Linked DNA regions of Homo sapiens: regions 2, 3 and 4 are each reported to be linked to region 1. Evidence: microRNA targets listed by miRTarBase, many of them from high-throughput screens and not tested one by one. Region 1 holds a microRNA gene; each other region holds the end of a gene's coding sequence.

The links. Region 1 holds the annotated microRNA hsa-miR-7162-3p (UCUGAGGUGGAACAGCAGC, at 1,514-1,532, shown strand). A microRNA usually pairs through its seed, bases 2 to 8, with sites in the 3' UTR of a target mRNA and lowers its output. Matches are read on the target gene's strand: a 7mer-m8 pairs with bases 2 to 8, a 7mer-A1 pairs with bases 2 to 7 and ends in A, and an 8mer does both.
Region 2: miRTarBase lists WHAMM as a target of hsa-miR-7162-3p. Seed matches in the 3' UTR shown: 7mer-A1 at 670-676.
Region 3: miRTarBase lists EMILIN2 as a target of hsa-miR-7162-3p. Seed matches in the 3' UTR shown: 7mer-m8 at 2,991-2,997.
Region 4: the mRNA of SYT1 is a reported target of hsa-miR-7162-3p. Seed matches in the 3' UTR shown: 7mer-m8 at 3,369-3,375.

Annotation. Positions count from the first base shown.
Region 1 is chr10:30,365,987-30,370,128 of GRCh38, reverse strand. MIR7162 (microRNA 7162) reads left to right here and starts at 1,464; the gene lies at 1,464-1,532. It also overlaps the pseudogene GOLGA2P6 and the pseudogene RN7SL241P.
Region 2 is chr15:82,833,318-82,837,317 of GRCh38, forward strand. It overlaps WHAMM (WASP homolog associated with actin, golgi membranes and microtubules), which reads left to right. Exons shown (of 10, transcript NM_001080435.3): 10 at 1-2,791. The coding sequence ends at 219. It also overlaps a transcript of HOMER2 not described here. Among named protein-coding and RNA genes, the nearest start is that of WHAMM, 26 kb to the left of the region's middle. RefSeq lists an enhancer at 1-168.
Region 3 is chr18:2,912,645-2,916,644 of GRCh38, forward strand. It overlaps EMILIN2 (elastin microfibril interfacer 2), which reads left to right. Exons shown (of 8, transcript NM_032048.3): 8 at 423-3,359. The coding sequence ends at 760. Among named protein-coding and RNA genes, the nearest start is that of LPIN2-AS2, 52 kb to the right of the region's middle.
Region 4 is chr12:79,448,561-79,452,560 of GRCh38, reverse strand. It overlaps SYT1 (synaptotagmin 1), which reads right to left. Exons shown (of 11, transcript NM_005639.3): 11 at 553-3,643. The coding sequence ends at 3,437. Among named protein-coding and RNA genes, the nearest start is that of MIR1252, 31 kb to the right of the region's middle.

The sequences.
Region 1 (4,142 bases):
CCCCAACCCCCAGCAAGAAAAATGGGCTTAGAGAATAGGATAGACCTGGGTATTCAAATCCCAGCTCTGTCTAAGTGACCTTAGGCAAGCACTTAACCTCTAATACTAATAATAGAAACTCTAATACTCTAATAGTAACTCTAATACTAATAATAGAGGTAATCATAGTAACTGTCTCATATGGTGGTTATGAGGATTCAGTGGGATCGTTAGCATGGTAACTGGCGAAGCACTCAATAAACATTCAAACAGTGGTAGTAATAACAGTAATAACAACAGCAATATTATCTGATCTCTCTGGGCCTCTGTTAGCCAGCTGTAAATTCGATCTTTTTCCCTGTCCCTTCCAACTTTACTGAGTTCTTTTAAAAACCAGACCACAGGCTTAGAAATGCCTTGACCTTTACTGACCAAGTTGTATATTGAGCCTAACCCTAGCCCTTTTAAGGGGCACTGTGTGGAACGGCCCAGGCTCCCCAGATCGAAACTTCTCACTCTTCACCATACAGTCCTCGAGCCGCTGTGAAGCAGTCCTCAAGCGGCAGTTATGGCAGTCCATAAAGGCTCGGGCACAGCTGGAAGCACACGTGACACAGGTGAAGCTTTGTAGAGGGAGGGATGTGGGAGGAAGATGACGCCAGGTGGCCAGGAGCAGGTGAGGACCAGTGACAGCCTTTCCTAACTTCTGTGCCCATTCTTGCAGATGTTGGAACAAGTCCAGCTAGAGACAGATGAATATACTCAACATCTAAAAGGAGAGAGGGCCCGGTGGCAGCAGAGGGTATGGAAAATGTCAGAGGAGGTGAGACCTGACCCTTAAGCCCCCCACTTTAGATAGGTCACTGGATCTTTCTGGCCATCTGTAAAATGGGAATAGTACAGCCAGAGGTGGTCATGGGTCTGGGCTTTGTAGAGGTGGAGGCAGAGAGGGAGTTGGTAGCCTGTCCAACCACCAGCCCCTCTCTCCAGGGCCCTGTCCCCCGTGCTTTGGGCAGGTTTGCACATGGAAGGAGGAGAAGAAGCATGACAGGCATCGGGTACAGGAGCTGGAGAGGAGCTTGGCCGAACTCAAAAACTAGATGGGTAAGATGGGGCTGGCATGGCCTGGGAGCAGGACTGGCATCAGAGGGCTGTGGGGATGGCTTAGAATGCCCCAGGGAGGTGGGTAGATGGAAGGGCTTTGAGGCAGAGGGAAAGAGGTCTGTGCCAGGAGACGGCAAGTCTTATAATCTCCATGAACCTCAGTGTCGCCATCAACAAAGAGGGAGGAGTGCTCATTGTCAGCCACCCACAGTGCTCTCTATCTGAAAGTGGCTTGGAAGATTGGCTACCATCCGAGAGCGAGGAATCGTTAGCAGTGAGGCCAAGTTTGGGGAGCCTGAGAGGATCTGTGCACCAAGAGAAGGGCTTTTATTTGTTGTTTTGTTTTGTTTTGTTTTGTTAACCCAGAGGCCCTTGTTGTCTGCTTCCTTTCTCAGCTGAACCCCTGCCCCTGGAGCCCCCAGCAGGGCCCTCTGAGGTGGAACAGCAGCTACAAGCTGAGGCCGAGCACCCGAGGAAGGAGCAGGAGAGTCTGGCAGGACAGCTCCAAGCTCAGGTGCAAAACAATCAAGGCTTGAGTCACCTGAACTGGGAGCAGGAGGAGAGGCTGCTGGAACGGGAGACGCTGCGGGAGCAGGAGAGGCTGCAGGAGCTGGAGGAGAAGCTGCAGGAGTAGGAGAGGCTGGGAGAGCGGGAGGAGAGTCTGCGGGAGCGGGAGGAGAGTCTGCGGGAGCGGGAGGAGAGGCTACGGGAGTGGGAGGAGAGGCTGCGGAGCAGGAGGACAGGCTGCTCGAGCTGGGGCGGAAAGCCAAGCTCTGGGAGGAGCAGGCAGAGACGTGCATGCAGGCCCTGCGGAACCACACCACCATCAACCACGTGCTCTCTCAGAACCATGAGCTCGACTAGCAGCTGGCTGGGCCACAGAGCGGCTTAGAGGAGCTGGTGCGTTGCCCCGCCTCGTGAGCCTGCCCTCCTCCCTTGCCCTCCAGGCCTTTGATTCCCCACCTGTAAGATGGGGCAGTGTAGCCCTCACGTGAAATGGTACTTCTAAAGGCACCTGTGAGCCAGAGCCCTGCTCTGATGGCTGTGGGAGAGAGGGGATAATTTTTCTAACCTGCCTCCACCCTTCCTGGTGCCATGGGAGGCAGACACCAAGTTCTGGGGTCTCCAGCTGCAGTGGGTGGCCACTGATTGCTTCTCTCTGTCCAGAACAACGAGAATAAGAGTGCACTACAGTTGGAGCAGCAAGTAAAGGAGCTGCAGGAGAAGCTGGGCAAGCTGAAGGAGACTGTAACCTCTGCCCATCCAAGAAGGGCTGGGAGGTGAGCACCAGCCTCTGGGGAGGGGAGGTGTGAGGCCAAAAGCAGCTCCAGCCCGGGGGCAGGTGACCCCAGCTCCCTCCAGGGCAGTCCTGTGACTGTTTCTTGCTTCCTGCCCTCTGACTTTTAGAGGTGGGTAGCCCTGGGCTCCTCCCAGGTGTGGACATCATCATCCCAGCTAGAGGCATGGAGCCCCCCAATCACAGGGGAGGAGTCGTGGTATAAGAGGCTCCTTATGTCAGGCATGGTGGCTCACGCCTGTAATCCCAGCACTTTGGGAGGCTGAGGCAGGAGAATCACTTGGGGTCTGGAGTTTGAGACCAGTCTGGATAACATGGCAAAACCTCATCTCTACCAATATCACACACACACACACACACACACACACACACACACACACACACACACACACACACACTAGCCGGGCATGGTGGCGCATGCCTGTAATCCCAACTACTCAGGAAGTTGAGGCATGAGAATCGCTTGAGCCTGGGAGGTGGAGGTTGCAGTGAGCTGACATTGCACCACTGCACTCTAGTCTGGGCCACAGAGTGACACTCTGTCGCAAAACGAAACAAAACAAAACAAAAACAAAAAAGTCTCCTTAGATTCAAACTAGATTCCAGCCTCAGTTCCACTGGTCGCCATTCAACCACTTTGCATCTCTAAGTCTCTGTTCCTTTAACTTCAAAAGGAAGTTAGCATTTTCCTTGCAGAGGTGCTGAGGATTAAATGAGATAATACATGGAAAGTATTAGTCATATAGCACACTTAGCAGATGGTGGTTGGCTCCCTCTGCTTTTCCACCAGCCTGTGGCCTACAGTTTAAATGGTGGGAAGAAAGGTGTAAGATTTGAGGCTGGGGAAGAAGGCATGGGGTTCTAGGAAAGGGAGGCAGTCACTTAGGCCTGGAGCAAGGGGCCAGGGGCCTGGGCGGGCAACAGAGCCCCACAGTGCCCTCAATACCCTATTAATGGGCCCAGAATCTGGAAGCCAGCCACCATGTGCCCTCATGCCCAGGGTCTTCCTGCAGGTGAAGCTGAAGAGCCAAGAGGCTCAGAGTCTGCAGCAGCAGGGACACCAGTCCCTGGGTCACCTGCAGCAGTACGTGGCTGCCTATCAGCAGCTGACCTCTGAGAAGGAGGCGCAGCACAGGCAGTTACTGCTGCAGACCCAGCTCATGGACCAGCTGCAGCAGCAGGAAGCTTGGGGCAAAGTGGTGGCAGAGATGGCCCACCAAAAGTTGCAGGAGACCCAGGGGAGGGAATTGCTGAGGACGGGGCCTTGAGGGGGATGACCTGGCAACCTCCGTGCCTTCTCACTCTCTTTCCTGGCCCCTTAGGAGCACCTGGAAGGTACCAGCCAGCAGAACCAGCAGCTACAGGCCCAGTTGAGCCTCATGGCACTCCCTAGGCAAGGTACAGGAGATCTCTCAGAGGAGGAGGAGAGAGCCCCAGAAGGAAAGGGGGACTGTTAGCAGCGTAGGATTGAGGAGTTGGAAGAGACCTTTAGAACAGCTGGTCATTATGCTGACCGGGTGTCTGCACTAAGTTTGGCATCAATATGGTGACCTCCTGGGCTAGGGGGCCAACAGGTTGCCTAAGGATGGGTGAACTGGCCCAGGTCAGAAAGGGAGTAGGTCAGAACTCCTGCACCGACTGGTAGTGGGACTGTGCCTGGGCAATATAGCAAGATCTTGGTTCTTGAAAGTAAAGATAAAGAACAGCAGCTCATTCCCCTCTGGGGAGGGGCTGGCTCAGGGTTACACAGTGAGGATGAAGG
Region 2 (4,000 bases), not on the chromosome of region 1:
TCAATCAATGAGCACATTCTGGCTGCCATAAGGCAAGGGGTCAAACTGAAGAAAGTTCACCCTGATCTTGGCCCAAACCCCAGCAGCAAACCAACCAGCAACAGACGCACCAGTGACCTTGAGAGGAGCATCAAGGCTGCGCTCCAGAGAATCAAGAGGGTGTCTGCTGACTCTGAGGAGGACAGTGATGAGCAGGACCCTGGCCAGTGGGATGGTTAGGCTCAAGTTTGACAAAGGCACCTGCCACAGTAGGCTTGAATAAAGTGGGTGAGTCTTAGACCTATCGAAAAGCATACTAACAGGGTGCTGATAGATGGGCCACATAACACCCCGGAAGATCAGCAGGGCCTTGTGTAGGCTGCTGCAGCATTTTTTTTTTTTTTCTTTTTTGAGATGGAGTCTCACTCTGTCGCCCAGGCTGGGGTGCAGTGGCGCCATCTCGGCTCACCGCAAGCTCCGCTTCCCAGGCTGGGGTGCAGTGGTGCGATCTTGGCTCACTGCAAGCTCCGCCTCCTGGGTTCACGCCATTCTCCTGCCTCAGCCTCCCGAGTAGCTGGGACTACAGGCGCCACCACCTTGCCCAACTAATTTTTTGTATTTTTTAGTAGAGACGAGGTTTCACCGTGTTAGCCAGGATGGTCTCGATCTTCTGACCTCGTGATCCGCCTGCCTCAGACTCCCAAAGTGCTGGGATTACAGGTGTGAGCCACCACGCCCAGCCTTTTTTTTTTCTTTCTTTTGAGACAGAATCTCTCTGTCATCCAGGCTAGAGTGCAGTGGCACGATCTTGGCTTACTGCAACCTCCACCTCCCAGGTTCAAGCAATTCTCTGTCTCAGCCTCCCGAGTAGCTGGGATTACAGGCATGCACCACCACGCCTGGCTAATTTTTGTATATTTAAGTAGAGACAAGGTTTCGCTATGTTGGCCAGGCTGGTCTTGAACTCCTGACCTCGTGATCCACCTGCCTTGGCCACCCAAAGTGTTGGGATTATAGGCATGAGCCACCGTGCCTGGCTGATGCTGGAGCTTTTATGTGACATGGTGACTCTTAAAACTGGGGAGGGACGTAGAGATGAGAGTTTCACACACCAGCCCATAGGTGGGATGTCAAGACCCATCGGAAGTGTCGCTGGCCTAAGAGAAGAGCACTTATTTCTCACCATGGCTGATCTAGAATTGTTCCCTGATTCTGAAAGAAGTTTACACTACACTGGTAAGCAGTACTATTAGACTACTGACTGTGGCCTTCTGTGCATATGGAATAATGATTTCTCAGATTTGTAGGCTTGAATGTGAATGTTATTTTATCAGTAATCAGAATAAATTGCTTATATTCAGGAGTTATTTTAAATATTTAAATGAAATTTATTTTAGGCACCAAGCACTACATAAACTCATAATAACTATTTGCAATGCATTAGCATCACTCACGGGGTAATGAAAACATACCTTAGCTGCTGTAAAAGCAAAGTCTTCCGTGTCCGGGTGGGCTGAAAGTTTTTAATAAAATTTTAGCTAAACATTTGTTTAAGTGAATACTAAGGATGGAGCAATAGTGTTATTTTCCTCAGGAACTGAAGTCTCATGCTGAAGTATTTTCTCCTTAAAATTAAATTTTTAAAATCAGGGAAGGGGAAGGGACTGATGCAAAGCAGTCCGTTCATTTCTCAGACTGCGAGCATCCCTACTAACCTCATCACCCTCACTCTGGTGATATTACTCCTGGGTCTCCACAGAACAAAAGGAACGCACCTCGTTTACAAAGAAAGTCCTGATTGATATAGAACAGAAATCTTCCTACTTCAGTTTTTTTGTTTTTTTTTTTGAGACAGAGTCTTGCTCTGTCAACCAGGCTGGAGTGCGGTGGCACGATCTCAGCTCACTGCAACCTCTGCCTCCTGGGTTCAAGTGATTCTCCTGCCTCAGCCTCTCGAGTAGCTGGGACTACAGGCGTGTGCCACCACACCCAGCTAATTTTTATATTTTTAGTAGAGATGGGGTTTCACCATGTTGGCAGGATGGTCTCGATCTCTTGACCTCGTGATCCTCCCACCTTGGCCTCCCAAATGCTGGGGGTTACAGGCGTGAGCCACCACACCTGGCCTTCCAGTGTCTTAACTAACTGGTACACAGCAGCCTGAGGGGCCTCAGTTGGCACAGCTGGGAGGGGCGTGAGTCCCTTTCAGCAGCTGCAGCCTGGGTCTCCCTCTGTGGCATGGCCACTGCCAGGTTTCCCAGCCACTGCCAGGTTGCCCACGGGTCTGTCATGTGTGCTACCTTTTCAGAATGCAAATCCAACTCCTGTGTATGAATGAATGTGCCTCACTGTGCTGGCCCAGGCCTGATGGGCCAAGCCCTGACTCTGCACTGGCCCCTGTACCTGCCGCTCCCACCCAGGTTCCCAGGGGTGTTCCAGTGGGGGACGCAACCTGCGGGCTACTCGCTGGGCATCAGGTCCAGATCCCAGAGACAGGTCCAGTGGCTGTGGCCCAGGCCTCCTTCCCCACCACAGACAGGCCAGGCTCAGCATCAAACTTCCTAGGGAAAGAATTTGGAATTGAAAAAGTAGCAAAATCACAACTTTGTGGGACTTTTCTTATGCATATTTTGCAGTTTGGCATTGTTTGTAATTACGTATTTATAATTTCAGTATTTTGAGATACCAGCGAGCTTAATCAGGCTAAAATAATTCTCAGAATTTGCTTTCTAAGGGCTGCCAAACACAAGAGGCCTTTGAAAAAAGGATCCTTTTCAAAAGAACGTTCTCACAATAAAAATTCCTGGCCCAATTGTGTCTTCTGTGCATCAACGCTTCCTTTCCTCCTCTGGAACCTTCTCTCCTTCCTTTCTCCCTTTTCCTGCTTTTTCCAGCCAAGCCTTGAAGTCAATCCAGACTTTGGCTTCAGGGAATTCAGAGCCAAGGAAGTGGGGACAAGTGTCTCCTATTGCCCAGCTTCAGAGCTCTCCAGTCGGCCTCCAAAGCACTGCCAGTCTTCACCTCTCCCTGGCTTTCCAGCCCACACAGGAAGGGCAGCCCCTCAGCCTGGCAGACAAAACCCTCAGAGACTTGGTTGCCTCCCCTGGGCAGCCCCTGCCCCTGCCACAGGTTTTAGTCCAGCAATACCATGCTGCTTCCTGCCTGCCCCCAAAGGGCCTGCTCTCTTAAGTGCCTGGAATTCTCCCTGCACCCTTCATGTCCTGGCAAACCCATGCCCATCCTTAGGTCTCAACCCCACAGCCTTTTCCGCCAGGTCTTCTCTGACCTCTCTCTCCTATACAGCCATGTACTTTGTCTTGGGAGTCTGGTACAAAGGAGGACTGGCATCTGCTCCTAGTACAGCCAATCCTATGGATTGTCCTGGAGTGAAAAGCATTGAGCTAGGCCAGTCAGACTTGTGTATTCATCTGTTCGTCCATTCTCTCTTCAGAATTTGAACTAGGGAATCAGGCAGGTGGTAACGGCAGCCAGAATGAGGAGGTTATTGGTTAAAGGCCACATGGCATGTGAAACCCACGTAGTTGAGTGGATTTATGGGGCAGAGGCTCTCAGACCATAGGGTGTGTAAAAGCACATGAGAGTGCATTGGTTTTCTATTGCTGCCATAACAAATCACCACAAAAGTAGCTGCTTAAAAGACAAATTTCTTATCTTACAGTTCCATAGTCAGAAGTCTGACATGGGTCTCACTGGGCTAAAATCAAGGTGTTGACAGGGCTGTGTTCTCTTCTAAAGGCTCCGGGGAGAAGCCATTTCCTTGCCCTTTCTGGTTTCTAGAGGTTGCCCCTGTTCCTTGGCTTGTGGCCCCTTCCTCCACCTTCAGTGCCAGCAGCATCGTATCTGACCCTTCTTCCATCATCACATCTCTTTCTGACCCAAGGAAAGGTTCTCTGCTGCTGCTGAGAACTTGTGTGATTAGTCTGGGCCCACCCGGATAATCCAGGATCATCTCTCCATCTGAAGGGCCCTTTTGCCAACTATGGTAACATAGCCACAGGTT
Region 3 (4,000 bases), not on the chromosome of region 1:
GGGGAGAATGGGCCTCTTCCACGAGGAGCCTGGCATGGCCCCTGGGGTTACAAGGTGCCATGTCTGCCTCTCCCTGGGTTGGTGGCAAGCTTCGTTTTTATTGGCCCTGCCTCCCGGGTATTCTGCCCAGCAGCCAAGCTTTGAGGCTGACTTTAGCCTTTAGGTGCTTCCAATAAGGAATGCCTCCAAGAGGCATTCTTAGGCCCATGGCAAAAAGTGGTATGGGCTAAGGTGGCCTCTGCATCACGGGTAGGCTGTAGGGGATGAGCATAAAAAGCAGCTGAGGCAGGCAGCCAGCTACCATGGGAAGACAGAGATGGCTGGTCTCCCAGGCCCAGGTTAATCACTGGGGGGCCACTTACTACCATGGCAAGGGCTGTGACGACAGCAGGTGAGCACAGGGTTTGCCTTTCTCCCCGCAGGGGTCTTCACGGCTCCTTATGATGGGCGCTACCTGATCACGGCCACCCTCACCCCCGAGAGAGACGCCTACGTGGAAGCAGTGCTGTCGGTCTCCAACGCCAGCGTGGCCCAGCTGCATACCGCTGGGTACAGGAGAGAGTTCCTGGAATACCACCGCCCTCCAGGAGCTTTGCATACCTGCGGGGGCCCGGGGGCATTCCACCTCATCGTGCACCTGAAGGCGGGAGATGCAGTCAACGTCGTGGTGACTGGGGGCAAGCTGGCTCACACAGACTTTGATGAAATGTACTCCACATTTAGTGGGGTTTTCTTATATCCTTTCCTTTCCCACCTCTAAGGTGGCTGGGGAGATGTCAGGGGAAAGATAGATAGTTGTAAAAACTCTAAAGCTTTAATATATTCGGTTTGTATGTAATGGAAGCACGGGGCTAGAGTTTCCACATAGGCCCCAACATAAAGGCCTTCCCTCGCTGTTGAGGCCACCATGCCTTACTGCATCCAGCCAGGCTGCAGGGAGTGAGGCACACGGTGAACATGGCCACTGACTTTTCTGCCACTCTAACTGGACAACTGGAAGACTTGGAAAGGCCTCCACCTGTATCTACACTCTGAGGGCCCTGGACTGGGCCTGAGCTTGCCACAGAGGCTCCGTCTGACTGTGGGCTGGGAGGAGGGAGGCAGGGGAGAGCCGGTCACGGTGGCTGGTCTTTACTGCAGGGCAGCACTGTGGCCAGCTGTCTGTCTTTACACTGCATGCAGAAGTTTAAACACTGAAGTGCCGAAGTGGCCCGTGCCGCCGCACAGAGACCCCGACTTTAGTTTGGGCTGTTCCACGCTTGGCTCACCATTGCCGCCTGGGACTTAACCTGCTCAGGCGGGCCTTCGCCCAGCTGCAAATAGGGATGCGTTAGAGACTGTTCCCAAAGCTTGTTGGGCTCCTTAAATGGCATGTACAATTTAAGTGCAAAGACAGGGAGTGTCAATAAAGATGGAAAGCCATTTCCAGTTAACTTTTGTTAATTTAAGTGTGGTCCCTTACAGATCGGGAGTTGTTGCTAAAAAGCAAACTGAAGAAATGTTTTGTTTCAAAAAGGGCTACAGAAAGTAACCTTGAGTAAAATTAATCTCAGCTACAAAACTGTTACCCCTCCGCATCCAAGCTATACACTTGGGTTTTGTTTCTGGCTTGTGAAGACGGACCAGATGTGCACGGAGGTCAAGGCCCCATGTCATCTGCAGCTGGAGCGGCTCCTCTGGGGATGCTGCACTCAGATCCCACAGCAGCTGCCCAGGCTAACTTGATCCCTGCTGCTTCACTGCACCAATCTCCAGCAGACACAGCTCGCCGAGCTCTTGGGTTTCTAAGCAGCAGGAAGCTCAACCTAACGCTGGCCACACGCTGACAGCTGAGCCCATCTGAGAACACGGCATCTTCACACAGCGAGACGCCTCCACTGAGGGGAGGCCCGGGAGTATCAATCTGTCACCAGTGGCCACGGAGACCTCTCAGCACCCTTAGTTCAAGGTAGTCTCTGTGGATCAGGTTGGTAACACCTACTGGTTAATCAAGTCCCACTGGGGAAAGGTTTGGACGGTAGAATCAAGAGCTGCAGTTTCCTTGGCCCACAAGATGCTCTTATGCTGTAAAAAAAATGCTTTAAGAATTGTTTGCAAATGAATTTACAGGGTGGCCACTGGACACTTCAGAGTTCCTTATTTACTCCCCCCGCCACAGCTAGGAAGACCAGCAAGAACTAAAGGTTTGCCGTTTTACTATTTAAAATGTGGACCTCTTTGTCCAGGAGCGGGAGGGAGAATGGCATCTCACCCCATTACAACAGCTGGGGAACTGGCTAAAGAGAGCTGTCAGAGAGTATCCTTGGCTGTCCTAGGAATGACTCATGGAAAGCGCCCCAGTGCAGCAGTGTTTTCAGGAAAACCCAGTGGGCACGCGCCATCGCCCTCTCCTCTCCTCTCACGCTCCTTTTGAAAAGACCGCACTCGGCGCCCAAGGGGACGTGCTCAAGAGCTGCAGGGGCAGGGCCCAGGCAAAAGGTGGGTGATGACTACCTGCTGCTTTCCCTACTCCGTAGATGGGTCTGGAACATCGGGTAAAACCCAGTCCTCCTCTCAGTGCATCTCTACTCACCAACAATGGTGAATCTCAGCTCTGTGTATTCAAGACAGGCAAAACAGAATATGCCTCATTATGGCTGGAGCGTGCCTCTACTTTGAGATAAAGCTGGATGACAGGTGGATCCTGGCCCACTTAGGAGACATCTTTAGAAAGGGAAAGGCTGTCTTTTTGTACAGGTAGTAGAACAACAAGGTCAGCTGAGCTTAAGGCTGTGGGGTTCGAAGCAGCCCTTCAAGAAGTCATCACCCCTGAAGTAGTGCCTGCGAGTCAGTCAGAGGCATACCAAACCCTGAGACAGAATCAGGCACAAGTTCACAACTTTTTTTTTTTTTTGGGGGGAGACAGTCCTACTCTGTCGCCCAGGCTGGAGTGCAGTAGCGCGATCTCAGCTCACTGCAACCTCCGCCTCCCGGGTTCAAGCAATTCTCCTACCTCAGCCTCCCGAGTAGCGGGGACTACAGGTGCATGCCGCCACGCCCGGTTAATTTTTTGTATTTTAGTAGAGATGGGGTTTCACCGTGTTGCCCAGGCTGGTCGCGAACTCCTGAGCTCAGCCAATCCGCCCACCTCGGCCTCCCAAAGTGCTGGGATTACAGGTATGAGCCACCACGCCCAGCCAAGTTCACAACTTCTGATATCAAGTTGTTGCTGAGAAAAGGTCAGGACACTTCTTAAGTAGAGAAGGACTGTGACATCCCCTCCAAACCTCCATGTAACACTAACAAATGGCCTCATTTACACGATTAAAAACAAAATGGTATCGTCAATAAATGCAAACCTTAAACTGCATTTGAAATTACTTCCTGGTTGGCATGTTAATCTAGCTTTCCCAGGTGACTAATTTTCTCACAGTTTATGTATTTGCAGCTTGACAGGGAGTATTTGTGATTGGAGTCACTTCGTTCATGCCTGTAAGCTTGGAAACCCAGCTTTGCACATATCCAATCCACACCACAGCCCCTTTCTAAAGATAAATGTGTATTTTCCTTATGCCATCCTATAAACGGGAAAGAAAATGGAAGGACACATGCCAACTCCAATGGGTGCGGGGCAAAACAGAGAGAAGCCACACGCAGGCACGTCCTCAGAGCTCAGGTATGCAAAGTTCACTGCTCCCCTGAAGCCCTCAAAGCTGCTCTGGGTAAAGACCATTTCCTTTGTAACCAATTTCCCTGAGCTCTTCTTTTGCATTCCCAAAGACCCATGGTTGCCATCACGTCATGCAAACAAACATTTCCATCCTGAACACACGCTCCTGTGGAGGGCCTTTGGGATGCAGGGTTCAGCATATGCTGCATCTGGTAAGGGCCCAGCAATCTGAGAGGACAAAACATCACCATGTAAGTAATATATGCGATGTGGTTTTGATCAAAGGTCACTCTGACTCTGTGATGAAAACATCAGGATTGACTGCTAAATCATACCCACCCTAAGGAAGGG
Region 4 (4,000 bases), not on the chromosome of region 1:
TAAGCCCACATCACAGTGCATTGGGATAGCGTATTTACATCAGCCTGAAACTGTGGGCTTCAGCGTCCAGTACAGTAGGCACTTGATAAATGTTAAATTTAGTGGAGGAAAAGTATTTACTTGTTTCCCATAGCGATCGTAGTAGGCATAGAATTTAATGTGTCATACTGTCCTCTGAAACTGGGGTTTAAATAGTTTTGTTTTCCGTCCCATTCTGGAGAAGCTGTGTGACTTGGGTTCTGGAGTGAAAACCCTGAAGGACACATGCTGGGCAAAGTGAAAAGCCTCAGAGTACGCCAGATGAACTGATGACACACAGGAATAGAGAAACACATGTTGAGAATGACACTGCCCAGGAACACCACGCGGTCATGGCCAAATGCTCCCGGGTGTTGTTTTCCCTCTAGCTATTCTGTACTCAGATGTGACTCAGATGCTGGCATTCAGTGCAGTTTTGTTTAGCTGCTGCTGCTTCCAGGAGTCCCCCAAAGTCAATAGGCCATTGGCTTACCACCAGAGTCAGGCAAGGAAAAGAGTGGGAACGCAGCAACATCAACAGGAAATAAAACATTTTTATTGAATATCTGTGTAATATGTTAAGTCATTTTTAACAACAATCAGAAAACTACTGTGGAATTCACTACACAAAGTGAAACAAAATTTAAATCACCTCATCAAAAATGAAGGTAAAATACAGCTGAAATAGTTGGCTCGCAGGCCACGAGCCATATGGCAGAGGAAAACACCCCAACATTTCTACAAGATACAGGGAAAACCCACACATAGAAACACTCAAGCAGGCAGTAAATATACACAAAGGCAACTAGGATCTTTCTAGAGCATCAGATTCTAATACTTTACACAGCTTTGTCAGAAGGGTACATGTGGCTTATTTGAGGATGAATCTTGGTCATAAAGCAGGTTCCATCACTGACTTGTGAAAGAGTGAAAGATGGCATAGTACCAACTAATTCTATGGTGACAATCCCATGTCTGGCAGTGTTGCAAGAGAATGCATTAGTGGTATTTTAATGCAAGAAATAATGTCTATTCAGCAGCTTGAACCTGCTTGTTTGAAAGTGTGGTTTCATTGTGAACAACTTAAAGCTGAATACAGTGAAATTAAATGTCATTTGTGGTATTTAAATACTTTTTAAAAGCCAGTCAACTCCCTCTCTTTGGTAGGGTTTGGCCCTTTAAATTGGAAAGAGTCTTGTTTGAATTTTCTGTTCAAACCATTATTTAATTTCACATTCTGACTTGTGTATATTTTCTATTACCTATGTTTTTTAAGAAGTACGGACCATCGGCAGACGGTTATTTTCCTTTTATCCTTTATGTCTATGCCAATTATAAAGCGTTTGCTATGTCTGGCCTAAAAGGCAAAAGAGCTTGCCCCTTCTTTGATAAGGAAACAGTAACGACAGGAATTCCAGTTTTACTGGGAAACAGCCAACCCCATGTTCAAAGCCTACCATCAGCCCTTTTTGAATTCTCTTTAGTTTTTGAAAAGACGTGGTGTGATATCCTGAAGACTGAACATGAGGCCAATGCTTAGTTTTCCTCCATTTTGTTTTGATATTTGTGAAGACAAACTTTCATTTCAGAGCATCACTACTGTCTTGTGGCCTGGAAATTAAAATGGATCACAGAAGTGAATGGGACAAAAGGCTAGATGCAGTGTGGGATAATAGGCTGCCCTTCCACGAAATGGTTGTCTACCATAGTGGGGAAAAATATGGAATATTGCACAGTGCTTGACAAAATGCTGTGTTCCACCCCATTCTATGTATCTTCCTTGTCCTATGCATAGCTTTTCAGTTCTGAATTGGTCCTTTGTAATGAGAACTGTTTGTGCTACACACACCTTGGGCAGTGCAGTAGAAGGGAATGGCAGTATTGTTACAATATCACTACGGAATAAATTGAGTGCTATCCACTGAGGAAACTACGGGTCTAAGCACACACGGCAGTCACAGTGTTACACAGAGCAGTCCTTTAAGACTCTTATGGAATGACTAGTAGCTTCATAATAGTGTCATTTACTACATAATAACATTGAAAACGTTTAAAAACTCCTCCTAAATCAAGCATCTAGTATACATAAGAGGTTGCTTCAGTTTTCTAGAACTTGTTCTTGGTTTGTTTCACCTTTTTTTAAAGGACAAATTAAAACTTAAGTAAAAAGAGCATATAAAAAGATCACTAGCTGTCTGTTTTGGCTTAATTGAAGTGCATTCAGAACTATGGCTAATTGTTGTTGGTTTTTGTTTTTGTTTTTCTTTCATCTTTTGATGGGATTACAATACTGTCTGTTTACCACAAAGTAATTTTGTGTAATAAGCACAGATTGTTGTGTTAAAAATATCCTGCATTCCTTCTAACCTGGTTTTATATAATAAAATATTTTGTTACAAACTCTAATGTGCAAACCTTTTGGAATTATTGTAGGTGTGAAATCTGGAACAGAATTCACAGGATGTACATTTTGTATAAAGGTGATAATGGAGAGCTACTTTTTTCTTTTTAAATAGTCAGGCAATATTTCATAAATGTTGACTTCTCCCCTTAGCTTCTTCTCCCCCATCCCCAAACAAATGTGCACACACACACACACACACACACACACACACACACGGAACACCTTGTTGTTATTCTATATGCAGTAATATGAAATCATTGACTCCTGTTCAGTTGCTTCCTCAAATATAAGAGTGAAGCCATTATTTTAGCTTTGTAAATATGTACAGACAGGTGCTATTCTGTTTTGTGGCTATGCTTCCTTGAGGTCAGCCTGGATGCTGCTGCTCAGATCATGCTATTTTGCCTGTGTAGGAATTCTACAAAATTGGATTCACCCACCAAGTATGTGGTGTAAGTTTATCTTGGTACTCAAATGATTCAATAGAAAGCTCAGGTTTAAGTTGTCCTTTAAGATGTCAGTTTAACTGTACTAGTGCCTTACGAGTTGATATTTTTGCTGGAATGCAGACGATACTATATTTACCGTATAATATATTATCAGCTCTCCTATATCTCAGTCAATTTACATAGTTTAAAATAGAACATCTTATTAAAAACATCTAGATATACACAGATTAGGAAACGCTTACAACATACAAATACACAAACTAGAAATAAATCTTTAGCATACTGGTATATACAACAGTGTGATACAATAAATAATTTCATTCATGCTCTATCTACACATCATATTGCTTAAAAGAAGAGTAGATTTGGAGGGCAGTGGTATGATGAAGGACTTAGGGGCTCTCTACATTTAAATTTGTGCAAATTAAAACAGGATTCCAAGTACCACTGAATTGTGTTAGGAATGCATGGCTGGAAAAATGAAAGGACCCATATTACTGAGGTATTTACAGATACTGGCTAAAGAGCACTATATGGGCAAATGCAGAAAGGCTTCTTCTTTCCTTTACTTCTTGACGGCCAGCATGGCATCAACTTCCTCCTCTACCTGCAGGGTGTGCCACTGGGCAATAGGTCGCCTGGGGTTGGCCAGCATGTCTGACCAGTGTCGCAGCTCCGCGCCGGTGCTGTTGTAGCCCACAAAGACTTTGCCGATGGCATCGTTCTTGCCAATCTTGTCATAGTCCAAAACAGTTACCACCACCTGCACTTTCTGAAAGAAGCCATGAAATGAATATGAATCATCTAGCTCTAGAGATAAGGCCCGACTATAAAGCGTCCTTGAGCGCTAAAGAATTGGAAATAGAAGAATCAATCTCCAAGCACTAGGATGAGGATGAAAATGACTTGAATCTTAATACTCAAACGTTAATTTTTATTATATACTTTGCACTAAGTCTTTTACATGAATGAACTCAGTTACTTCTCATAATAGATCCTATTAATATTGCCATTATACAGGTAAGGATGCTTGAAGCTCTGAGAAGTTATATAACCTGTCTGAGGTTGTTTAAGGAATGAGTTGTTTGGTTTTCAGAGCCTATGCTGTGAACCTCCATGCCATGGAGTC